Linked DNA regions of Homo sapiens. The protein of the gene in region 6 purifies or fractionates together with the protein of the main gene of each other region. This does not show direct contact. Each region holds a gene or a part of one and is shown on either strand. Other genes may lie near its edges.

The links.
Region 1: the proteins of SNX21 (region 6) and POLE2 purify together in Homo sapiens (affinity purification with mass spectrometry; 2 studies listed by BioGRID and IntAct, with this or other methods). This does not show direct contact.
Region 2: the proteins of SNX21 (region 6) and GAS6 purify together in Homo sapiens (co-immunoprecipitation; one large-scale study listed by IntAct). This does not show direct contact.
Region 3: the proteins of SNX21 (region 6) and OCRL purify together in Homo sapiens (affinity purification with mass spectrometry; 2 studies listed by BioGRID and IntAct, with this or other methods). This does not show direct contact.
Region 4: the proteins of SNX21 (region 6) and SPATA20 purify together in Homo sapiens (co-immunoprecipitation; 2 studies listed by BioGRID and IntAct, with this or other methods). This does not show direct contact.
Region 5: the proteins of SNX21 (region 6) and NUBPL purify together in Homo sapiens (affinity purification with mass spectrometry; one large-scale study listed by BioGRID and IntAct). This does not show direct contact.
Region 7: the proteins of SNX21 (region 6) and POLA2 purify together in Homo sapiens (affinity purification with mass spectrometry; 2 studies listed by BioGRID and IntAct, with this or other methods). This does not show direct contact.

Annotation. Positions count from the first base shown.
Region 1 is NC_000014.9:49,664,215-49,667,714, forward strand, and holds part of POLE2 (DNA polymerase epsilon subunit 2), read right to left. Parts: intron 2,200-3,500; coding exon 2,116-2,199; intron 950-2,115; coding exon 893-949; intron 461-892; coding exon 412-460; intron 1-411. UniProt on the Homo sapiens protein: Accessory component of the DNA polymerase epsilon complex. Participates in DNA repair and in chromosomal DNA replication.
Region 2 is NC_000013.11:113,854,077-113,857,576, reverse strand, and holds part of GAS6 (growth arrest-specific protein 6 precursor), read left to right. Parts: intron 1-3,500. UniProt on the Homo sapiens protein: Ligand for tyrosine-protein kinase receptors AXL, TYRO3 and MER whose signaling is implicated in cell growth and survival, cell adhesion and cell migration.
Region 3 is NC_000023.11:129,560,759-129,564,258, reverse strand, and holds part of OCRL (inositol polyphosphate 5-phosphatase OCRL), read right to left. Parts: intron 3,081-3,500; coding exon 2,966-3,080; intron 1,876-2,965; coding exon 1,759-1,875; intron 1,661-1,758; coding exon 1,473-1,660; intron 1-1,472. UniProt on the Homo sapiens protein: Catalyzes the hydrolysis of the 5-position phosphate of phosphatidylinositol 4,5-bisphosphate (PtdIns(4,5)P2) and phosphatidylinositol-3,4,5-bisphosphate (PtdIns(3,4,5)P3), with the greatest catalytic activity towards PtdIns(4,5)P2.
Region 4 is NC_000017.11:50,545,728-50,549,973, forward strand, and holds the start of SPATA20 (spermatogenesis-associated protein 20 isoform 1 precursor), read left to right. Parts: upstream 1-1,446; 5' UTR 1,447-1,481; coding exon 1,482-1,558; intron 1,559-1,937; exon of another isoform or gene 1,938-1,992; coding exon 1,993-2,040; intron 2,041-2,555; coding exon 2,556-2,726; intron 2,727-2,826; coding exon 2,827-2,891; intron 2,892-3,082; coding exon 3,083-3,237; intron 3,238-3,315; coding exon 3,316-3,459; intron 3,460-3,558; coding exon 3,559-3,760; intron 3,761-4,246. UniProt on the Homo sapiens protein: May play a role in fertility regulation.
Region 5 is NC_000014.9:31,672,904-31,676,403, reverse strand, and holds part of NUBPL (iron-sulfur cluster transfer protein NUBPL isoform 1 precursor), read right to left. Parts: intron 3,050-3,500; coding exon 3,010-3,049; intron 2,921-3,009; coding exon 2,830-2,920; intron 1-2,829.
Region 6 is NC_000020.11:45,836,799-45,840,287, forward strand, and holds part of SNX21 (sorting nexin-21), read left to right. Parts: exon of another isoform or gene 1-537; intron 538-1,469; coding exon of another isoform or gene 1,470-1,593; exon of another isoform or gene 1,594-1,734; intron 1,735-2,681; exon of another isoform or gene 2,682-3,489. UniProt on the Homo sapiens protein: Binds to membranes enriched in phosphatidylinositol 3-phosphate (PtdIns(P3)) and phosphatidylinositol 4,5-bisphosphate. May be involved in several stages of intracellular trafficking.
Region 7 is NC_000011.10:65,264,962-65,268,461, forward strand, and holds part of POLA2 (DNA polymerase alpha subunit B), read left to right. Parts: intron 1-1,620; coding exon 1,621-1,745; intron 1,746-2,515; coding exon 2,516-2,607; intron 2,608-3,500. UniProt on the Homo sapiens protein: Accessory subunit of the DNA polymerase alpha complex (also known as the alpha DNA polymerase-primase complex) which plays an essential role in the initiation of DNA synthesis.

The DNA.
Region 1 (3,500 bases), on a different chromosome or scaffold from region 6:
GGCATGCGCCTATAATCTCAGCTACTCGGAAGGCTGAGGCATGAGAATCACTTGAACCCGGGAGGCGGAGGTTGCAGTGAGCCGAGATCGCGCCACTGCACTCCAGCCTAGGTGACAGAGTGAGACTCTGTCTCCAAAAAAAAAAGAAAAAAAAAAAAAAGGGTGTGTAATTCGGTGATTTTTAGTATATTCACAAGTTGTGTAGCCATTACTACTATCTAATTTCAGAACATTTTCATCACCCCAAAAAGATTTCTATTAGCCCATTAACAGTCTAAGAGTTATTTTGCCAAAAATATGCTCTTCTAATTAATGGTATCCCAAATTATATCATGTTAACATATTTTACCCAAAGCAGAAAGTTTTACTGGAGAATGAGAAGAAGGACAGTAACAAAGTATACTGACTTACCTTCTGCTAAGACAAAGCATGCCTCTGTGTATAAACCACTATGGAACTGGTACACAACAGTTGAGGAAAATAATTCTATTCTTGAGGCAGTAATAAAGTCAACATACATTTTGAGTCCAACAAGGCTTCTAAATAATAAATTTAAAGACTTCCCATTTGAAACTGTGAATAGACCACAGCTTAGAAAGAGCTTAAAAAATTTTAGTTTTAAATGTCCTCATGTTTAATTCTTGGTAATATTGACAGGGTGGATCATTCTTACCATGATATAAATTTCGTCAGTGATTCATCTAGATTCTCCAAATAAGAGAAAATTAAAGTTGTTCTGTCCCTGTTTAGGATTATATCTCTACATTCCTACACCAGCAACATAGAGAAGTTACATTGAGAACCCAAATAGGTAAATTTTAGAAGGATATATAATCAATTTCCCCAATTCACGTAATGCAGATTTTAAAAAATACAGACAAGTGAAGGATATAGCTTTACTAAGGTCTAGTTGGACTGTTCCAGTAGGATCTTCCAGAAAAAATTTTCCCTAAAAAAATGAAAATAAATAAATCCACATTTATGTAACAATGAAAACCGTTGACAAAAAAATTAAACTACAAGTTTGACAACAGAATACAATAGGGAGAAAGTGGATTTTAAAAATCAGCTATTATTTCTAGTCCAGGCTCTTCCATTTACTAGTCTGATAACCCCAGACTAATCACTTAACTGAGATTCTGACTCCTCACAGGTACAATGGAGAATGACTCCTACAGATAAGAAATGGCAAGAGGGACATTTGATGTCTGCCATAAGGAGGGTCTCCCCAGGTACCTTCTAAGACAGCCAACAGCATGTCCAAGGGACCAGGACATACTCTGCAGCTTGCTTGTTCAGAAACCCAGTACTCTCCGTTTATCCAGAGGTCACTACAGGCCTAATTTCAGGCTATGCAAACTGGGCTCCTGCACAAGACACTCTGTCCTGATGTCTTCTCAGGAAACCAAACACAGATGAAAAAGACACTTGGTGACTGAGAAAAGGTTTTTGTTTTTTCTGGGTTTTTTTTTTTTTTTTTTACTATTACAAAAGTTTATTTAACAAAAAGTCTAATATGAAAATGTACATGACCTAATTTTTACGTCATTGTAAAACAGGCCCTATGGAGAGAGAAAATGGGTTTCTCTGCTGAACAGCCATTATTATTTTATTTATTTATTTATTTTTGAGACAAAGTTTCGCTCTTGTTGCCCAGGCTACAGTGCAATGGCACCATCTCAGCTCACTACAACCTCCACCTCCCGAGTTCAAGGAATTCTTCTGCCTCAGCCTCCTGAGTAGCTGGGATTACAGGCATGTGCCACCACGCCTGGCTAATTTTGTATTTTTAGTAGAGACAGGGTTTCTCCATGTTGGTCAGGCTGGTCTTGAACTCCCGGCCTCAGGTGATCCGCCCACCTCAGCCTCCCAAAGTGGCTAGGATTACAGGCGTGAGCCACCGCGCCCAGCCAACAGCCATTATTTATCCTTGTTCCAAGGCTTCTGACATGATGATACTATTTCCTCGTATTACCACTATTCCAATATTGTTCTGTTGGTGAGGCGAGTTTTCAATAAAGAATACATTCCTGTGCCCACTACAAAAATGTTCTATGTAACCGACATTTCATCAATCCAAGGCCAAAAATAAAAGTTTGATGCTTATTAAGTTACCTCTTTTAACTGCGTTATCATTCCAAGAACAATCGCATCTCCGATTTTGGTTGTACTACCCAATAAGGTTTCTATTGTTTTAAGCTAAAATAAAACAAAATAAATTTTAAAGACTGTAAATATATTCTTTCAAGAAACAAAACTTTTTATAAATAACTATATTTGGGGTATACATTTCAGCATTTATAGCTACTTTACAGTAGAAAATCAAATAAAATGGAAATAAAGTTGTAAAATTAAACTTAGGATGTTTAATTTTGTCCTACAAAAAAGCTGTAAGATCAAGTGTATGATGCCTAAAGAAACACCACATCGACTCAGGCTCTTACCAATGACTGAATCCTCACACCATATCATTCTGAATAATGATAAGTACATTTATTTTTTAAATATAGAAAAGAATATCAATTTTATTTTCTTTGAACAGTACCTTTTGAAAACTAGCAAGCTATTTAAAAATATATATTCCAATTTTACTTAGTATTTTAAAAGGCTCTCATTATTATTTACATTCTCAATCTGATCTTTTTTTCTAATCAGAAAGTTTAAGGTAGTAAAAATTGGGACACTATTGTAAAAAATCCTTTCCGGCCAGGTGCAGTGGCTCACGCCTGTAATCCCAGCACTTTGGGAGGCCGAGGCAGGCGGATCACGAGGTCAGAAGATCAAGACCATGGTGAAATCCTGTCTCTACTAAAAATACAAAAAATTAGCCAGGCATGGTGGCAGGCGCCTGTAGTCCCAGCTACTCGGGAGGCTGAGGCAGGAGAATGGTGTGAACCCGGGAGGCGGAGCTTGCAGTAAGCCGAGATCGCCTTGCATTCCAGCCTGGGTGACAGAGCAAGACTCTGTCTCAAAAAAAAAACAAAAAAAACAAAAAACTTTCCATCTTTTTCTATATGTAATCCTAAATATATGTAAATACATACATATATAATTTATAACACACACCTATACAGTTTATTTACAAAGATGAAATCATAGTATATGTACTATTCTGCAACTTAACTAATTGAAGTTAATATTATCTGAGACATCTTTCCATTTTTCTACATATAGATTTCCTTCTGTTTAAAGAATAGAGATATCTATATTATACATATGACCATTTATTTCACCAAACTCCTATTAAAGGACATTTAAGTTGTTCCCAGTTTTCTACTAATAAAAACAATGTTTAATATTTCTGTGCAACTTTCTTGGCCCACTACACAGATAGAAACTTTTTTTTTTTTTTTTGAGATGGGGTTTCACATTGCCCAGGCTGGAGTGCAGTGGCACTCTCATACCTCACTGCAGCCTTAAACTGGGCTCAAGTGATCCTTCCACCTCAGCCCCCTGAGTCACCAAGATTACAGGCACTAGCCACTGCATCCAGCTACAGA
Region 2 (3,500 bases), on a different chromosome or scaffold from region 6:
TTCCTCATGCTTCATTTTCCCCTGTTTTCTAAGGTTAAAACTGAGAGCTGTTTCTCCAATGCAAAGCTGCTTGTTTAAGGGTTTCGTATTTGATGTTGGAAATGCTCTGGACTCTTCCATGGTTTTTATATTCCAGTGATTTCACTGCAAACCTGGTGTGTACGCCTTGTAAATTTTGACCCTGGCCAAGTGAAAGGTTCATTTTAAAAGTTTTAAAATAAATTTTAAAGGGGAGCTGGAAGTGGAATAAGTTAAGAACAGTATCAGTTTTGCCTTTCACTCTGACAGAGGCACTCTCTGCTCTGACTGACGGGTGTTGATTAAAAGTATAATATTCAAAAGAAATAGTAAAGTGCATTGGGCCTTGTTAATGTTCTACTAATTTTCTGGGGCTCCGTTTTCAAATTATAGGTGAAATTTTTTTCCTTCCAGTGTTAGTGCCTATGATAAGAAAATACATTTTCTCCACATCTGTCCACAAACCTGCTAGACCCTGTTTTGTGACTACCTCCCCTTGGAACTTGGGGCTCCATGGAAAACACACAGCTTGACCCAGCCAGCCCTCAGAGAGCCTGGGCCGGTCACTGCAGTGGCTGGATTCTCAGCATAAAAAGGCCAAACGTTCGGCCAGGCTGGGACTGGCTCCCATCCAGGACCAACTGTCCACAGTACAGTAAGGCCACTCTCTGAGTCAACATTGTTTCTTTTCTGAATTGCTAAGTTGACCGTCCCTGCAGAAGCAGAGAGGGCTGCGGTGTGGCATTCCTGCCCACTCCAAATGAGGGCAGCCCGGACGCGGGAGCTCTCAGGGAGGCGCAGTGGGCTTTGGGTGTGTCTGGACTGTCTCCACCACACCTGGAAGATACTGTTCACTTCCTTTTTACACTTGTGGGAAATACATGACAGTGTTTACGGGCAGGCTGGCTTTCCGTTTATTTCAACCCTGACAATTGAATAGCAGCAGCAGATGATGAAACTGTTCACTTCCCGATCACTCCCGTTCTCAGATCCATCACTTAGCTCGTCCGTCGCTCAGCTCGTCTGTTAGTCTGAAAGATGAATCGTGCACGGGTCCTCCTGAGAGTGCTGTTCTCGGGGTCTCCATGTGTGAAGTTGTTACATCCTCATGACAACTGTGTAACAGCTGTCACTGAGCCATTTTACAGATGTGGAAACTGAGGCCCTGAGAGGCTGTGGAGGGCTACAGTGTGTCCTGGGCATTTGAGCCCCACACTCTGTCATTAACTCCTGTGCTCGCTGGGACTGGGGGAGAGCAGGACGCGGCAGCACCCCCGGCCCCACTGTGTGCTCCTCTGTGTGCAGGCGACTGTGAGCATACTGGCACCCATGTGAGGGCTGAGTGGTGCTGGTGTGGGCGCATAAAGCACAGGGCGGCTGCGGGGAGCTGGGTGTGTGTCAGTGGCTCGGAGCATTAGTCTCGTGAACATGGTCTGCCAGGTGCGTCATGCTGGGCTACAGAGCCCATGGCTCCACCATAAATGGTGGTTTTGTGTTTGAACTTGAGTGTTGCTGCTCAGTGAGGCCAGAGGAAGGCACCAACCTGCAGGCCTGGCCGGTCCTCACAACACGGAAGGCAACCAGTCCACTAGAGAGACATGTGTCCCGGCCACTGGAGGAGTCCAAGTGACCTTTAAGTCTCACCAGTCCTCAGAGCAACCCAGGTGAATTTGGGGCCTGAGCTTGGTCGTCTGGCCGAAGACCAGCTCAACTTGGATAAAGCTGGAGGAGAAGCCTGTCCCTCAGGCAGCTGCCAGGGCATCTGTGATTTCTGCTTGCGTGCACTCTTGGCGACTATTGGTGGTGGTCGCAGTCAGGGCATCTGGTTGCCTTTACTGTCCTTACACCAGCTGGGCAGAGCTCAGGCTGGGAGCCCAGTGGGAGAGGCCGGGGCGTGACTCCCGGCGCAGAAGCGGCAGTGGCACACCGGCGTCCCAAGCACAGCTGTCCCTGCCAGGCCCCTGCGCGTTGGATCTTTGGGTTGAGTCATGCTCGATGGTGCAGCCATCCTTTCAAGGGAACTGAGCTGTCCAGCGTCCCATGGAGCAGCTCCCCGTGGATCCGGAGAGGCCGTAAATAAACCTCCCCATTTGTAAGCCGGGAACACACATGAACTTTGCAATCGTGTTTGTCCTGGGATCATAGAACGTGGTGGCTGGCAAGACCCAGGCATCCTCATCCTGTGCTGCTGTGAACAGAGGCCGGTAGCTTATTGAGGGACCAGTCCCAGTTCGCTTTCTGTGGGGAAGACTCTGATGGAAGCCTAGGCCCCAAACTCCAAGGTTAGCACATCTTCTTGGGGGGATTGACACCTCCAAAGGTGAACTTGGGTCCAAGGCACGTGTGTGCGACCTGAAGCATGGGTGCCGTGTGCAGGAGACGCCCTCACCGGAGATGGGGACCGAGTCCACACGGCTCTAACTGCAGAATCACTGGCCCTGTGCCCACGACTATTTTATTTTGCTGTTTTATATGATCACAAAGTACACTGTCTTGTTTTTCCCAAAGCATTTGCAGTGAGACATCCCACTTCCTCTCCACGGCAGCTGTTGCGGGCACGAGGCTGCTCCCAGGACAGCGATGCCACCGGGGCTGGGGTGGGCACGGAGGAACCCTCTTCCTTCCTCCTCCCCGCCCTCTGCTCCCCCACAGACTGGCCTGTCTTTAGTCAGCACTTTCCCAGGCTCCCTTCTGCCCACCACGTGCAAACAGTGGCGTGTCCTGGGCCTCTCTCCTTGTAGTGTTTCTTGTGGCCAGCATCCCTCCCATCCAACAGCTGTGTGGCTTCCTGACTGGCTTCTCTCAGGGCCCGCAAGGATGCTGCCAAATGGCCAGAGACAGTCACTGCTCTGCACTTCAAAGCAGGCAGCCCTCGGTGGGGCTTGCCCTGAAAGACAGCGGGCCTTCCTCGATGAGAGCCTGTGCTGGCTCAGGGCCTGTGGGGGCTGCAGCTCTGTTCCTTCCCTGCGTCCACGCTCACATGCTGAATGTTGTGCACCACAGGACACCCTGCTGGGGGCTGTCGGGAGCATGCTCTGTGTTTGGGGCAGAGACGGGCAGAGTGAGTCTCAGCATTACTGCCGTGCAGGGTTGAGTCTCAGCATGACTTCCATGCAGGGGGAGTCTCGGCGTCACTGCCATGCGGGGCGAGTCTCGGCGTTACCGCCGTGCAGCTGCTGGAAGCCACTCGAGCTCCTCTGTCTCGTTTGCCATGAAGCCCATGAGAGACACTGATGTGTGTCTCGGGGCTTCTGTGAGAAGAGCTTGGTTACCCACCGGGTCAGGCACCACGTCGGTGCTGTGAGGCATGGAGGGTGCTCACAGCTGTGCAGTCAGCTACAGAGGCCTTTCCCAGCATCCACATCTGACCGGGCAGTCACACCAGGATGAGCTCCCAGGAAGAGGGCTCCCAGCAAGGGAGGGCGCACCTGGGTGTGAGCTTGGAGGAGGGCAGAGGCACCTGTCACCGCTGACCCTGGGTG
Region 3 (3,500 bases), on a different chromosome or scaffold from region 6:
AAGTGTTCCTATTTCTCCACATCCTCTCCAGCACCTGTTGTCTCCTGACTTTTTAATGATTGCCATTCTAACTGGTGTGAGATGGTATCTCATTGTGGTTTTGATTTGCGTTTCTCTGATGGCCAGTGATGGTGAGCATTTTTTCATGTGTTTTTTGGCTGCATAAATGTCTTCTTTTGAGAAGTGTCTGTTCATGTCCTTTGCCCACTTTTTGATGGGGTTGTTTTTTTCTTGTAAATTTGTTTGAGTTCATTGTAGATTCTGGATATTAGCCCTTTGTCAGATGAGTAGGTTGCGAAAATTTTCTCCCATTTTGTAGGTTGCCTGTTCACTCTGATGGTAGTTTCTTTTGCTGTGCAGAAGCTCTTTAGTTGAATTAGATCCCATTTGTCAATTTTGGCTTTTGTTGCCATTGCTTTTGGTGTTTTAGACATGAAGTCCTTGCCCATGCCTATGTCCTGAATGGTAATGCCTAGGTTTTCTTCTAGGGTTTTCATGGTTTTAGGTATATTAATTTCTTTAAAACTAATCATTTTCTACCACCACATCTACTCCTCAACACATCTCTGCTTCTATGCTTATTAAATCCCATTCTTCACTGACCTCTCTCTGCTGCCCCTGTTTTTAATAAGCACAGCCATTAAAAAGAATAATGTAGATCTATATATACTGGCTTGGAAAGGAATCCACAATAAATAGAATAATACAGTCTTATACACCAAGTACCTATGTGTGTGTTTGTATATGAATAGACAAAAGGCTAGAATAGTGCTATTTAATAGAATTATAATGCACCTCACAATATAATTTTAAGTTTTCTAGTAGCTGCATTTAAAAAGAAAAAAAACAAGTGAGTATCAATAAATTTCATTTTACTCAATATATCCAAATTATTTCAACATGTGATCAATATTTTAGAAATCAAGATATCGTACATCTTCTTCCTAAGTCTTTAAAATCCAATATATAGCTTATGCATACAGCATATCTTAATTTGGACCAGTCACTTTCAGGTACCTAACAGCCATATATGGCTACTGGTTGTCATATTGGACAGTACAGATCTAAAAGGCTACACACCCAACTGTTAAGAATGGTTTCCTTTGGAGAGAGGGACTGGCTAGGTAGAGAATAAGAAATGAGGAAATTTAACTTCTAATTTTATCTTTTATTACATTTGCAATGAATATTTCTATTTTATCATAAAAACAATAAAAACTGACTCCAACTACAGACCCTCCAGCATTATTCTAGGTGCCCCACTAATAGAACTATCTTTTCCTCTGATATCAAGTCTAATTTCTCTGCCTCAATGATTCTGTTATTACTCAAAAACCCTCTCCTTTGTGACCCCAATCCCTCACTGGTAATCTTTCACTCTTCACAGCTCTACAGTATCTCACATTTAATCTCTACACTATCCAAACTCCTGTAGCCACTACTCAAAGGCTACAGGTGAGTTAACCACTTACTCATGTTTCATGATGTTCAACTGCGGGAGGGTCTGATTTGGGACCACAAAACTCATTCTCGCACAAATGTCCTTATAATCTTGATTCCTTCTCTCAAAGTCCTCCACGTGTGCAGCCAGATGGGAATTGACAATGCAAAAGGTGGTGTTGTGAAATACAAATCTCACAGCTACCCCACCTTTGTTTCCCTGTTAGCAAGAGTAATTATTCAATTAGTACACAGAACAAGCAACTGAACTTTACATGAACATGAATAATAATCAAGCTCATTTCCAAAGTAACTCACCATTTTCCCCATGATTCCAGTTCCAACTGTTTCTGTAGCAATATCACGAATGTATCGACACTGATCCTTTCTGGCAAATATAAGAAGCATCATCCCAACAAGGCGCACCAGTTGAACCTATGAGTTCCGGGGAGTTACAAAAGGTTAATGTTAATACCAATCTTTGCCACATTTCTAATGTCCCACGACTAATTTTCCATCAAGATGATATACTAGTGCCCAAATCTGACTTCATATCCTCTAATTTCTCAGTGGACCCCGTCAAGTGGAAACTAATATTCTCTGGGGAGGCTCTAATCTGGCACTGACCAATAAGAGTTAAAAGCTGGGAGGGACAATGAGTACTTTCAGCTCTAGATCTATTCTTTTAATCACTTCTTAGCCTACCAGGAGTAAGCAGCATTAAAAGTTCAAATAATAAAGCCACTATCCCAGCTTGTTCCTTCCACCTTTCCTTCCTAGTTTCTGATGTCTAATTTTCTAAGAAATTGAAATCAACCAAACAGCAATCTTTTTTACTTATTTTTAACTTGTGAACTACAGCTAGAAATATGTCTGAGATATACATTAGTCAGGGACCTATATGAGAGGAATAACATCCCCAGGAGTTTTATTACCTATATAAACTGTTAGAAGATGTAGAGAAAAATTACTCACATTACTTCTTTTAGAGACCTTAGTATGATAGCCCTGTAATTAACTCTTCTGGTAGCTAAATGCCTTTACCACATACCTTCTAAAGACAAACAAATTGGCCCATCTTGCTAAAGTCAACTCTCCTCTTAACTTAAAACCAAGTTTAGAACTCGTTCAAATTCCACACCACTTCTATTCTTGCTCTGATTGCAACACATGCACCATGCGCCCACGTTTCATATTGCTTTTCTGTAAAGCATTCAATTCTGACCATGTCAGTGAGTAATCTAAATCTTATATGTAATTATTTCAAACTAAGTATTGATATAAGCATAATAAAATTCTTTTTTCCCCTAAAAGCTATCTAAGCAATGAAAATATAGTATCAGAAAGCTTAGGGATTTTTTTTTCTAGGAAATAAGGATGAATGATCAATCTGCCCTATCCCAGTATTACACACAGAGAAGAATTCAATTAAACTATTCTTTTGGAACAAGTTGTAGATAATGGAATAACTCCCGGTGAGCCCTATTTAGTCATACACTTAAAAAGATAATTAAATGCGGCTTACTTTCTTATACTTGGCTTTGGAATGCAAACCTCTCTCTACAGCCATGGACCATTCTTGTTCCTTCACAGATTCAAAGTAGAAGAAGGCTTCTGTGCTCAAGTCCAGTTCTTGGAATCTGAGGAAAAAAGGGATATGAGATCTATACATATCCCATAATTATCTCTGGCTACCTCCTGTCCCATATGTTGAAACATTAGATGAAAAAAAGATGGGAGAGAGATAAATTTTATAGAACTGCTCTGTTCACCCAGGTTATCAGTAAGAACAAGTAGCTTTCTTTTCTAAAGAATTCCCACAAGTACATTCATAAGCTATGCAAAAAATAAATCAAAATACCTCCCACAGAGGATAACAGCAGAGCTTTGCTCTTATATCCTAGGAACTGTCACTGTTAGAACTGACCCCAAGTCTTAGTTTCTATGCAGAATATATAGATTCCTACGGGTTTCAAGAAAATTAGATGCTTCCTTACACCATTTTAGGTATCTGTTCATTTCTGTTCTCACAAATTTGACCCGCAAGTTAACTCTCGTGT
Region 4 (4,246 bases), on a different chromosome or scaffold from region 6:
TACTGTCATCAAAAATCCCCTTCTCTGGCCAGGCACGGTGGCTCACACCTGTAATCCCAGCACTTCGGAGGCTGAGGCAGATGGATCGCTTGAGGTCAGGAGTTTGAGACCAGCCTAGGCAACATGGCGAAACCCCGTCTCTACTAAAAATACAAAAATTAGCTGGGCATGGTGGCGCGCTCCTGTAGTCCCAGCTACTTGGAAGGCTGAGGCACAAGAATCGCTTAAACCTAGGAGGTGGAGGTTGCAGAGAGCCAAGATCCACTGCACTCCAGCCTGGGCAACAGAGTGAGACTCTGGCTAAAAAAAAATGGGGTCGGGTATGGTGGCTCATGCCTGTAATCCCAGCACTTTGGGAGGCCAAGGCAGATGGATCACCTGAGGTCAGGAGTTCGAGACCAGCCTTGAACCCAGGATGCGGAGGTTGCAGTGAGCCGAGATCACACCACTGCACTCCAGCCTGGGTGACAGAGCGAGACTCTGTCTCAAAAAATAAAAATCCCCTTCTTACAGTTCACGAGTGTCTCCAAGATCTTGCCTCTGCCCTCATCTACTGCCTGTCTTCCCTCTTTCTGCAGTTGCTCAGCCCGGACTCACTGACAAGCCACGGGACCTTTGCACAAACTGTACCTCTGCCTCCTTCCCCAGCACTCCCCCTGAGCACCCTCCAAGTTCCTTTCTCTCGTTCTCCATGGCTTCACAAATGTGATTTCCTCAGGGAAGCCTTCATCCTTTGCCCCTTCCACCAGATCAGGTCACTTGTTACGTTATACCCTCACGGACTTGTCACGTGGGTGTTTATCGGTATGGCTGTCGAATTAGCATCTGCCGCTCTCAACAGACTGTGAGCCATGTGAGGGCAGGAGCCTTGTTTCTCTCTGCCCACCATTGTATACTCAGTGCCTTGCAGAGTGGCAGGCGGCAGGCACTTAATAAATATTGGCTGAATGTAGCCAATGAGGCCATGTGTAACCTATGAGACATAAAATGGGCTCATCAGTATTATTTAAGGAAGACTTCCTGGAGTGGGTAGGATTTGAGTAGGACCTAGAGACGAGGAGGCTGCAAAAAGCAAACCTTGTTAGCTGGTGGACCTGGCCAAGGTACGCCTTCGCCTTGGATCTCATTTCTCATTTGTAAAATGGGCAGGGGTTGGACAAAATGAGCTGAAGCTCTGGCATCCCATGTCCCTAGCATCTCCCAGCCCTAGATCCCACAACTCTCCCTATTCCCTTGAGAAGGGCTGTCCTCCCCAGGCAGGGGCAGAGCCCAGTTTTATGCACAGAATGGGTCCTCCCAAGGCTCGGGTGCCTGATCTGCAATTCTGCGCTCCGCCGCAGGGCGACGCTCGGAGACCAGCCACACTGTCCCAAGTCCCGGCGAAGACCCGCCCGCGGCTCCGTAGGTGCCCGGCCCGCCCCTCGCAGCCTCCTGACTTCCCTTCCTGTCCTCAGCGGCCGGGCCCACGGCCCCGAGCAGCCATGCTGGGCGCGCGGGCCTGGTTGGGCCGCGTCCTTCTGCTGCCCCGCGCCGGTGCAGGCCTCGCCGCGAGCCGCAGGTACGGGCGGGCGAGCGGGCCCCTAGGGCACTCCCTGCGCCTGCCTGCGGGCCCAGTGGAGGGTCTTCCGGACACCGGTCCCCAGTGCCAGTCTGGACCACCCCTGCATGCCTGGCCCTTCCCCCACCCCACCTCCGGTCTGCTCCTGAGACCTGGCTCTGGCTGTAAGGCCCTCCTCCCCTCCTCTCCCGTCCTCATCCCTTCCCTCCTCTCCCCTTCCTTCCAGTGCAGTGCCAGCTCCTCAGGGACTGTTCTGACACTGCTTCCAGGAAGCCTTCCTTGCACCCCAGTGCTGGATGCTGGGTCAAGGGCCTTTCTCCAATAGTACCCTGTGCCCTGTCACAGTCCTTTATTGCTGCATGGACCTTTCGTTATTTAGGTCTGCCTGCAGTCCCACTTCCAGGCTGAACTCCCTGAGGTCTCTGATTCCCTAGGTGTCCTGGAGTCTGGCCCAGGACCTGGCCCCACAGGAGTCCCAGCAGGTGGGCGCTGAGTGAGGGAGTCCCCATGTCTGGTTTCCTCTGTTTGTCCCTCACCTGGTCGAGTCCCAGACCCTACTGATCTTGGCCTGTCCAGCCACCAACAGTAGGCTGCCTTCCAGTGGGGCCACACCCAGGCCTGCCAGAGAGATGCCTCCAAGCAGCTGCTCCAGGAAGGGCCGGGGGAGGGGCCTGGGGAGGGGTAAGAATGGAGCCCCAAGAACCATTCTGCCCATTGTGACCCGCCCTGACCTCACAGCCATCCTTCCCACCGCCAGGCCCAGGAGGTTGGGGGAGACTAACCTGGCAAGGAGCCCCCAATGAGCCACCTCTCCTCACCCCCCAAAAAACATAAGGGGGAGCACAAAGGCCACAGTCTCCCCCATGGTTCAGAAAGGTGGGTTGGGCTGGGAGCAGGGGTCCTACTGGGGTGCTGAGTGAAATGGAGCAGGTGCTGGGGGGCCTGGGAGAAGGTGGGTGGAGGCCCCTGGCTTGCCTGATGCACCAGTCCTCGCCAGGGGTAGCTCCTCCCGGGACAAGGACCGAAGTGCGACGGTCAGTAGTTCAGTGCCCATGCCTGCTGGAGGGAAAGGAAGCCATCCTTCATCTACACCCCAGAGGGTCCCCAACCGCCTGATCCACGAGAAGTCACCATACCTCCTACAACATGCCTACAATCCTGTGGACTGGTGAGCACCTCTCCTGGGGCCCTGCCTGGAATCGCTGGGGTCCTGGGCCCCTCCCAGACCCCCTGGGCTACTGAGTGATGCCCCACCCTGCTGGGTCTAGGTACCCCTGGGGACAGGAAGCCTTCGACAAGGCCAGGAAGGAAAACAAGCCGATTTTCCTCTCAGGTAATGCTCCCACCTTCCCTGATGTGGGGGTGTGGGCAGGGAGTGGCAGTGGATGGGGGAGGGTCCTCTCGGCCTGGCGGGTCTTCCAGGAGACTAGAGGCCAGGACGTCTTCCATGTAGCCAGGGCCACTTGGCCAGCCTCCCTCTGACCCGTTGCTGGCCCCCTGACCTCTCCCCATGGCCCTGTTCAGTCGGGTACTCCACCTGCCACTGGTGCCACATGATGGAAGAGGAGTCCTTCCAGAATGAGGAGATTGGCCGCCTGCTCAGTGAGGACTTTGTGAGTGTGAAGGTAGACCGTGAGGAGCGGCCTGACGTGGACAAGGTGTACATGACGTTCGTGCAGGTGAGCAGCCCTCCTCGGGAGTGTATGCGCCACATGGGCTCAGAGCAGCTCCCCTCACCCTCGCCCTCTCTCCGCCAGGCCACCAGCAGCGGCGGGGGCTGGCCCATGAATGTGTGGCTGACTCCCAACCTCCAGCCCTTTGTCGGGGGCACCTATTTCCCTCCTGAGGATGGCTTGACCCGAGTCGGCTTCCGCACAGTGTTGCTGAGAATACGAGAACAGGTGGGTGTGCCTCCGGGAGTTGGGGGACCAGGGTGGGGGACTAGGAAACAAGAGCCCCTCCCCCTAGCTGACCTCCAGGTGTGCCCCCACCTCCCGCAGTGGAAACAGAACAAGAACACCCTGCTAGAAAATAGCCAGCGTGTCACCACTGCCCTGCTGGCCCGATCAGAGATCAGCGTGGGTGACCGCCAGCTGCCGCCCTCTGCCGCCACCGTGAACAATCGCTGCTTCCAGCAGCTGGATGAGGGCTATGATGAGGAATACGGTGGCTTCGCTGAGGCCCCCAAGTTTCCCACGCCGGGTCAGTGCCCCACGCCCGCCTTAGCCCAGGCTTTGGCCTTCTGATTCCTATGCTGGTCAGGGACCTACTGGCTCCTGGCCTCACCCATAGCTTCCTGTCCTCCTGACTGGCAGTGACCTCCTTGCCCCTAGCCTGTCGGTAGCTATCGGTGAAGACCCGACTGCTGGTGTCAGCAGTGACCCTCTCACCTTAACCTAGATGATGACCTTCTGTCCCCTGACTTGGTCAGTGACCCAGTGACCCTGACTTGGCTAATGACATTCTGGGCTCTAGGGGGACAAGTAACTTACTGGTCCTCTGTGAACCAATGATATTCTGACCTCTGGCTTAGGCTATTACCTTCTGTCCTGTGGGTTGACTCTTGACCTCACAGCCTGTCCAGAGACTGCCTGTTGAGTGAACTCCCAGCCTCTGCCTGGCCCAAGGCCTCCTGACCACCCCGATCTCTGTCCCCACTTTCCCATTCTCTCACCTGCATGTTCTTGG
Region 5 (3,500 bases), on a different chromosome or scaffold from region 6:
ACTACTATTATATGCAACAATAAACATGAATTTCAAAAGCCTTAGGCTAAGTGAAACCATATAAAAAAAAAGCTACATCCTGGACGGTTGCAGTGGCTCACGCCTGTAATCCCAGCACTTTGGGAGACCGAGACGGGCAGATCACCTGAAGTTGGGAGTTCAAGACCAGCCTAACCAACATGGAGAAACCCCGTCCCTACTAAAAATACAAAATTAGCCAGGCGTGGTGGCGCATGCCTTGTAGTCCCAGCTACTCAGAAGGCTGAGGCAGGAGAATTGCTTAAACCTGGGAGGCGGAGGTTGCAGTGAGCTGAGATGGCACTATTGCACTCCAGACTGGGCAACAAGAGCTAAACTCTGTCTCAAAAAAAAAAAAAGCTACATCCTGTATAATCCTATTCATTTGAAATTTAAAAACATGTAAAACTCACTACGGTGACAGAAATCACAATGATTGTCTATGGGTATGGGATGAAACAGAAGGGGACCCAAGGAAACTCTCTTGGAGGATGGAAATGCTATTTAGTTTGATTGGGTTATGATTACATAGGTATATATATTTATCAAAAATCACTGAATTATATACTGAAAATCTATGCATCTCATTGTATGCATAATTTTAGCTCAACAAAGTATTGTCAGGGAGAAAAAGAAAAAAACAAAACAACTTTAAACCAGACTTCTAGTTCAGGATATCAGAATGACCACAGTATTTTTCTTCTCCCCATAAATGGGTACTAGGAGGGAACATGAGAGGATGTTCTGGATCACTGGTTTTGTTCTAGTTATCTTGTTCTAAATGATGATTATATAGGTGTTTCAACTTTGGGATAATTTATCTAATTATACTCATGATTTGTACATTCTTCTGTATATATGTTATATTCAATTGTTTAAAATGAGCCAATGAATCAGGTACAAAAGTTCTATCTAGCTACTGAATTTTCATTAAGGATGTTAAATTTACCAAATAATGGTTTGGTTTCTAAATCAAAACAAAAGTGAAAACACTCCTTAGCTCTGATGATCAGCATTAGTCCCAGTGTAGGCCTAAAATACCAGCTTTTCAGCTCCCAATAAAATGCACACATGAAAGTGACTTCACGAAAGACTGTAAGATAGATATACTCTAGGTAACCTCAAAGCATCCCAATAAAATATGAATCCATTTTCTTACCCCATCTTTATCCTGATATTCTATAGTATGTTTGCTGAAAATGTATCCACCATACTTCTCAAAATAAACTGTAACTTTTTTTTTTTTTTTGAGACGGAGTCTTACTCTGTCACCCAGGCTGGAGTGCAGTGGCACGATCTCGGCTCACTGCAAGCTCCGCCTCCCGGGTTCACGCCATTCTCCTGCCTCAGCCTCCCGAGTAGCTGGGACTACAGGCACCCGCCACCAAGCAGGGCTAATTTTTTTGTATTTTTAGTAGAGATGGGGTTTCACCGTGTTAGCCAGGATGGTCTCGATCTCCTGACCTCGTGATCCGCCCATCTCGGCCTCCCAAAGTGCTGGGATTACAGGCGTGAGCCACCACACCTAACCAATAAACTGTAACTTTTATACAATTTATGTGTCAGAGAGCTTGTTTTTGCCAAATCTTCATTTGGACCTCTGCTAGACTACCAAATTCCCTGAATATTTTTTGAGAATAACAACATGTAAAATCTGATGACTGAAGTGTTGTGAAGGTAGCTAAATTCAAAAATCAAAAATATATAATGCAGGCAATTAACACAACTATTCTATATTCTCTGATAGTATTTAGAAGTACAGAAAACAGAGGGTGGGTTAATCAAGACAAATAAAGGTCAAGGTCACAAAGGAATTGGTGGGGATGGGGTGGTTTGGGGATTTTAAATGAAATCACTAACTAGGGGATCTGACAGTAAAAGAGGAGAAAATGAAACCAAGAGACTTAAATGACTAGGACCAAAAATCAAACAGCACATTTATCACAATTCAAGCAGCAAAAGTGGTAGAAAGGCAAGATGTTATAGTGAAAAAAAGAAGAGTTTCAGAGTTCAAGACAGATTTCATCTACTTAATTGTATACCTGAAAATGAATATAGGAGTATCTACCATTAGAATTATCAACCTATTGCATGGTGCCTGACCCAAAGTAGAATCTGAACAAATAAAAGGTAACTGTTATAAGTTGATGAAGTAAATGCAAATTACTTTTAACTTTTACCTAGAAGACAATTACAAACTCAAATCTACTGAGAAAAAAATAAAACTTATTCCAAGCTAACTATAAATAACATATAGCCCAATTGATATTTTTAGATTATCCAATCAAATGTTCTCTTCTTTTCTTAAGGCTAAATTAAAGTTGATTGGACAGATATTACACATGCAAATATATAACCATATATACTCAAAACAAAATTTTACTTTTTTCTGGAGCAATTTTAAATCACAAGTACATTGGTTTATATAATTTTTTTCTACATCTGTAGAATTTCTACACTGCCCTTATAACTCAATATTGACCACAATGAGATTAATCACAAATCTAAAGAAGGAAGATAACTTATAAAAATTGATTTGGTCTTCTTACTGCAGACACAGTCAAAGCAAGAAAACAGTATTAAGTAAGACAATAGAATTTTTAGTACTCACAAGCAATGGGAAAGATTAAATCATGTTAACAGTGAAGTTTGGTCTTGGCATCACATTAACTCATTAGGTGCCATATTACGCATTATACATTCATCCCATCAACTGATTCCTGAATGCAAATTTTAACAATTCTCCAATCAGCAAATGTATTAACCACAGCTTTGCCAATGATAAAATGATATTTAAAGCAATATTCTTACCTGCCTCAACAATTTCTCAATGGCCGACATTACCATAAGGCCTCTCCAAACTACTGGTTCACTTTCTTCAACCAGAAAGCCCATAGACATACTGCAACAGTAACATAAAAATACAACTAATTTGTATAAATTAATCAACATTATTCTGAAAAGTAACATTAAAAATATATATATGCTCACCAAGCAATACCATAATTCAAGAGAGGCCTCATTAGGTTGCCTGGAAAAAAAAAAAATCCTCTCTTTTAGAACAATAAAACACAACACATAAACATTCTGAATTGGGTTTTTTTTTCATCTTTTTAAAAATTTTTTTAATTAACAAAAATTGCATATGTTTACGGGGTACAACGTAATGTTATGATACATGTCTACATTGTAGTAGAATAATAATAAGTAAATAAATAATAAACCATGCTAATTAGCATTCCACATCACCTCACATATTCTTTCTTTGCAGTAAAAACATTTAAAGTCTACTCTTTTAACAATGTTGAAATATACAAAAAATGATTGTTAACAATAGTCACCATGCTGCGCAACAGATCACTAGAACTTATTCCCCCTGTCTAACTGAAACTTCGCACTACTTGACTAACATCTCCCCTTTGCCCGTCCATCCTTCCAGGATCAAAGAATACCAAACTGGAAATACAAATAGGCTACTCATA
Region 6 (3,489 bases):
TAGAGCAGGATGGCCAAGTATGCCCCGGCCTGTGTCTGGAGAAGCAAGGCACCTCCTGTGTACAATGGGGACCCTAATTCCCCACTCAACTTGTGGGGGTGAAGAGCACAGGCTTTGGAATCAGATCAACCTGAGTTTAAATCCCAGCTGGGCTGTTTTCCAGCTGTGTGACTTACGGCAAGTCTTTGAGCCCTTTTCCCCCTCTTTGAGCCTGCTTCCTCAGCTGTCAGAGATAAGGACCTTCCTTGCAGTGCTGTTGTGATGATTAAATGAAATCACAGATGTAAAGAGTGCTTGGTACAACAGGAGGCACAGGGTAAATGCTTGGGTAATGGAACTACTGTCATTATCACCCATCTGGCTGCATGTTACAAGGTCAATGAGATAATGGATACAAAATGTAAACTAGATGAACATAAAGGCTTATTATATAGACCAGTGTGTCCTGAAGAAAACTGGTGTCCTAAAGTGTGTCCTGCAGAAAACTAGTTCCCTGGAATGTTAATAGCTGTTTCTAAATAAAGGTTTTGCAGGCAATATGTTTTGAGAATGCAGAGTTAAATGAGAATACAATAAGTTTCTTTATTGTTAAAGTATTTAATCCCTAATAGTGATATACACTGTGAATCTTCAAGAGGACAGAGTAAGCAAACCTAACTGACCAGGAGTGGCTAGAGTATTGTCAGTTCCACAGAACAAATGTGAGAGAAAGATCTGGATTTGGTGTTAGGGTGCCTTTAACATCTAACACTGGTTAACTCTCCTTTTAAACCTGTTGGCTTGGCATTATAGGTTAATCCATATTCAGGTTCTCAGACCTGGGAGGCGGGGAACTTCGTGATCATCTTGTTCAGTGTTTTCCAAACCTCAGTCATTCCAATACCTCCCTGATTCTTGTCCTATCTAAAAATGCCACTTGTGTCCTTTTCTTCTTAACATTTTTCTTTAAATGAACCTATTTTTTTTTCTTTATCTTTTTTTTTTTCTTTTTTGAGACAGAGTCTTGCTCTGTTGCCCAGGCTGGAGTGCAGTGGTGCAATCTCAGCTCACTGCAACCTCCACCTCCTAGGTTCAAGCAATCCTCCCGCCTCAGCCTCCTGAGTAGCTAGGATTACAGGTGCCCACCACCATGCCTGGCTAACTTTTGCATTTTCAGTAGAGATGGGGTTTCACTGTTGGCCAGGCTGGTCTTGAACTCCTGACCTCAAGTGATCTGCCGCCTCAGCCTCCCAAAGTGTTGGGATTACAGGTGTGAGCCACTACGCCCAGCCGAACCTATTTTTTTTCTTAAATAAGTTTATCGAGACGGAGTCTTGCTCTGTCGCCTAGGCTGGAGTGCAGTGGCGTGATCATAGCTCACTGCAGCCTTGAACTCGTGGGCTCACATGATTCTCTGCCTCAGCCTCCTGAGTAGCTGGGACCACAAGTGCCCAACTAATTCTTTTTCTTTTTCTTTTTCTTTTTTTTAGAGACAGGGTCTTGCCATGTTGCCCAGGCTGGTCTCGAACTCCTGGCCTTAAGCTGTTCTCCTGCCTCAGCCTCCCAAAGTACTGGGATTACAGGTATGAGCCACTGTGCCCATCCTTTAAGTAATTTTAAAAGACAACTTCATAGCACTACCGTACGTGGAAAGTCTCACTTGCCACCGAGAGAAGCTAGCCATAAAAATAAAAGGTGAGGCACGGTGGCTCACACCTGTAATCCCCGCACTTTGGGAGGCTGAGGTGGGCAGATCACCTGAGGTCAGGAGTTCAAGACCAGCCTGGCCAACACGGTGAAACCCCGACACTACTAAAAATACAAAAATTAGCCGGATGTGGTGGTAGGCGCCTGTAATCCCAGCTACTCGGGAGATTGAGGCAGGAGAATTGCTTGAACCCAGGAGGCAGAGGTTGCAGTGAGCGGAGATTGTGCCACTGCATGCCAGCCTGGGCGACAGGGCGAGACTAAATAAATAAATAAAGTAAATAAGTAAGTAGTGAAAATGAAACGTCATTAAATCTTGCCTAGATGTTGTTGCCTGAAGGAGGCCCTGACCTGAGATCCACTTTCTGACTCTTTTCTAAAAATGGAGATGAGAAGTGTTAGAGAAGTACTTTTTTTTTTTTTTTTTGAGAGAGAGTTTCACTCTTGGTGCCCAGGCTCGAGTGCCATGAGCAATCTCGGCTCACCACAACCTCCACCTCCCAGGTTCAAGCAATTCTCCTGCCTCAGCCTCCCAAGTAGCTGGGATTACAGGCATGTGCCACCACGCCTGGCTAATTTTGCATTTTTAGTAGAGACAGGGTTTCTCCATGTTGGTCAGCCTGGTCTCGAACTCTCAACCTCAGGTGATCCACCTGCCTCAGCCTCCCAAAGTGCTGAGATTACAGGTGTGTGTGTGAGCCACTGCAACCTGCCCAAGAAGTCCTTTTTTTAAAACCAAACTGAGAGCTGGCCAGGCGCGGTGGCTCACACCTATAATCCCAGCACTCTGGGAGGCAAAGGCGGGCGGATCACAAGGTCAGGAGATCGAGACCATCCTGGCTAACACAGTGAAACCCCGTCTCTACTAAAAAATACAAAAAATTAGCCGGGCGTAGTGGCAGGCGCCTGTAGTCCCAGCTACTCGGGAGGCTGAGGCAGGAGAATGGAGTGAACCCAGGAGGCGGAGCTTGCAGTGAGCCGAGATCGTGCCACTGTACTCCAGCACTCCAGCCTGGGCAACAGAGCGAGACTCCGTCTCAAAAAAAATAAAAAAATAAAAAAACCCCAACAAAACCAAACTGAGAGCTTCTCAATTTGTAGTCAGAAAGATTAAAAAACAATTAGGCTGGGTGTGGTGCTCATGCCTGTAATCTTAGCACTTTGGGAAGCCTAGCTAGGAAGATTGTTCAAGGCCAGGAGTTCAAGGCCAGCCCTAGCAACATAGTGAGACCCCCCCTCATCTCCATACAAAAAAAAAAAAAAAAATTTTTTTAAATAGCTGAGTGTGGTGGTGCATGCCTATAGTCCTAGCTACTTGGGAGGCTGAGGCAGGAGGAATGCTTCAGCCCAGGAGGTTGAAGCTGCAGTAAGCTATGATTGTACCAGTGTACTCCAACCTGGCCAACAGTGAGACCCTGTCTCAAAAAATAATAATTAAAAGGGGACCAACCTCCTGATACAGTGATATTTACTCTAGTGCACACCACCTAAAAACCTCAGGTACCAATACTTGTACATGTCTCATTTTTGGACAAACACTGACTTGACCGAGCACTTCCTTCACTAGAAACAGAAGTGGACCCAGAGGGGGACTCCCTTGCCTGGGTCACACAGAGAAGGAGTAGCTGACCTGGGGTTAGAACTTGAGTCCTAGGCCAGTATACTTTTCACAGTTATGGCAGTTGTGGCTATCTACAGACCTGTCCTCTGGGTCTAGTTTGGAAAAGCCTGACCAGGGATGTGGAGGCCAGGTGTCCAAAGTGGAACAAGCTCCAAGCTGGTCCTAAAGGAGCCCCAAGAGAT
Region 7 (3,500 bases), on a different chromosome or scaffold from region 6:
GGCTCACGCCTGTAATCCGAGCACTTTGGGAGGCGGAGGAGGGCGGATCACAAGGTCAAGAGATGGAGACCATCCTGGCCAACGTGGTGAAACCCGGTCTCTACTTAAAATACAAAAATTAGCTGGGCATGGTGGCGCATGCCTGTAGTCCCAGCTACTTGGGAGGCTGAGACAGGAGAATCGCTTGAATCGGGGAGGTGGAGGTTGCAATGAGCCGAGATCGTGCCACTGCATTCCAGCCTGGCAACAGAGTGCAACTCTGTCTCCAAAAAAAAAAGGGGGGGGGCCTTGCCATCTTTAAATATTTCCTCCTTAAATCCATTTCAGTAAGTTCTTTTGTTGCCACCACTTCACCAAAGCTGCTCTACTCAAGGTCACCAGTGACCTTCACCATGCTAAAACCAGTGATGAATTTTCAGTCCTCATCTTGAATTGAATTAGCACCGGCACTTGACACTGTTTGTCATTTTTTCTTTTTTTAAACACATTTTTCTTTTAGCTTCTTAGACACTACTAGTTTTTCTTTCTTTTTTTTCTGAGACAGGGTCTTGCTCTGTTGCCCAGGCTGGAGTATAATGGGCAAATCACAGCTCACTGCAGCCTCAACCTCCTTGGCTCAAGCAATCCTTCCACCTCAGCCCCCAAGTAGCTGTAACTACAGGCACATGCCACCAAGCCCACCTAATTGTTGTATTTTTTATAGAAACGGTTTCACCCTGTTGCCCAAGCTGGTCTCAAACTTCTGGGTTCAAACAGTCTGCCCACCTCAACCTCACAAAATACTGGATTACAGGCGTGAGCCACTGCATCCGGCTTACTCCTAGTTTTTCTTCAGCTTTGCTTGTGTCACCGCTTCTCAGGCTTTGCCGATTCATCCTCAGAGGCCCTAAGGCGCCCCAAGACTCAAGCCTGGGATCTTTTCTCCCTTCTAGATACGCTCACTCCCTTGGCGATCTCACCTGGGGTCTCATAGCTTTATATCCCATGTATTTACTGATGGTTCCCAAATTTATACCTCCGCCCACAACCCTTGCCTGAACTACAGGCTGGTTTGTTCAGCCTGCTGTCTCCAGTTGGATGTCTAAATGGCACCTCAAACTCTGCATGTCTAAAACTAAGCTCCTGGTATCTCCTCTCTCTCCTCAGAGTAGTTCCTCTGGCTCTTTTCCCCATCTCAGTTAATAGGGACGCCACTCTTCCTGTTGCACAGGCTAAAAATATCAGCATCATCCTTGACTTTCTTTTTCTCATACCTTACATTCAGTTAGCAGATCCCACTGGCTTCACTTCCAGCATGTAAAGTCCTATCCAGAGTCCAGCCACTTCTCGCCATCTCCACTGCCACCACCTTGATCCAAGCCACCATCATCTCTCACCTGGGCTTTTCCATGATTCTTTAATTGGTCCCCCTGATTCTGCCCTTATCCTCTTTTGTCTCCCCTCAGTGGTGAGCTTTGTAAGGACAAGGATGCTTCTGTTTTCTCATTGCCCAAAACAGTGCCTGGCACTAATAGATTCTGAATAAACATTGATGGAGTAAACCAGGATTATTTTTGCTTTTCTAGGTGAAACTTCGAGAAATGAACTAAGTTTTTACTTGTCCAATTTTCCTTTCTACAGTGGTAGAGCTTTGTGTTCAGTATGGACAGAATGAGGAGGGAATGGTAGGCGAGCTTATAGCCTTCTGCACCAGCACACATAAAGTTGGCCTTACCTCAGAGATCCTGAACTCTTTTGAGCATGAGGTAAGAACAAAATGAAAGCAAACTAATAATGTGATTCTCCATTTCTGCTCTACAGGGGAGGCATTGTGATATATTGAGAGGAGTGTGGGCTTTCGAGTCAGGCCTGGATTCCAGTCCCAGTGTGAGCTTGGACAAACTATGTCCCTGAGCCTCAGTTTCCTTTTCTGACATTGGGTCTAATAATCTGTATTTTTTATGATTGTTATAAGAATTAAATGGGGCTGGGCGCCGTGGCTCATGCCCATAATCCCAGAACTTTGGGAGGCCGAGGCAGGCAGATCACAAGGTCAGGAGTTCAAGACCAGCCTGGCCAACGTGGTGAAACCCTGTCTCTACTAAAAATACAAAAATTAGTTGGGCATGGTGGCAGGCGCCTGTAATCCCAGGTACTCGGAAAGCTGAGGAAGGAGAATCGCTTGAACCGAGGAGGTGGAGGTTGCAGTGAGCTGAGATTGCGCCACTGCACTCCAGCCTGGGACAGAGCGAGACTCCATCTCAAAAAAAAAAGAAATGAGAATGGACATAAAGCACTTAAAACTATGCCCAGCAGGTGATAAGTCTTCACCAAATAATTGGTATTATTAGGATTGTTATATGTTATAGACAGTCATGGGATGTCTTTGTTTTTAGTCTGTGTGTATCTTAATTCTTTGAGGAATGTTAGATCTTTGATTATATTTTGAATACCTTTTATTATCTCAAGGCTTTTGAAAACACCTCTGCTATTACTTGACTATGAAGTACTGTATTCACTATCTTTTCTTTTTCAGTTTCTGAGCAAAAGATTATCGAAAGCCAGGCATAGTACCTGCAAGGACAGTGGCCATGCAGGAGCTAGAGACATTGTTTCCATTCAAGAGCTGTATCCTTTTCTGCTGAAGGTCTTTGCACCAAGCTACATGTTGTATTTTATAATTTGTCTGTAGTCGCATGTGTAATTTAAAAACAAATAATAAGGCCGGGCACGGTGGCTCAGGCCTGTAATCCCAGCACTTTTGGAGGCCGAGGCAAGCAGATCACTTGAGCCCAGGAATTTGTGACCAACCTGGGCAACATGGTGAAACCCTGTCTCTATCAAAAGTACAAATTTTTTTTTTTTTTTGAGTTGGAGTTTCGCTCTTTTTGCCCAGGCTGAAGTGCAATGGTGCAATCTCAGCTCACTGCAACCTCTGCCTCCCAATCTCAAGTGATTCTCCTGCCTCAGCCTCCTGAGTAGCTGGGATTACAGGTGCACACCACCACACCTGGATAATTTTGTATTTTTTTTGGTAGAGACAGGGTTTCACCATGTTGGCCAGCTGGTCTCGAACTCCTGACCTCAGGTGATCCGCCTGCCTAGGCCTCCCAAAGTCCTGGGATTACAGGCGTGAGTCACCGTGCCCGGCCAAAGTACAAATTAAAAAATAATAATAATAAGCTGGGTGTGGTGATGTACGCCTGTAGATCCAGCTAGTTGGTAGGCTGAGGTGAGAAAATCTCTTGAACCTGGGATGTGGAAGTTGCAGTAATCTGAGATCAGGCCACTGCACTCCATCCTGGACGACGAGGAAACCCCATCTCAATAATAATAATAGTAAAAATTGCCTAATATTGAGATTTCTTCTAGCAATCAGCCCTTGCCTTATATGAAAGTTTATTATTATTATTATTATTTTTTTTTTTTGAGATGGAGTCTCGCTGTGTCGCCCATGCTGGAGTGCAGTGGTGTGATCTCAGCTCACTGCAAGCTCCGTCTCCTGGGTTCATGCCATTCTC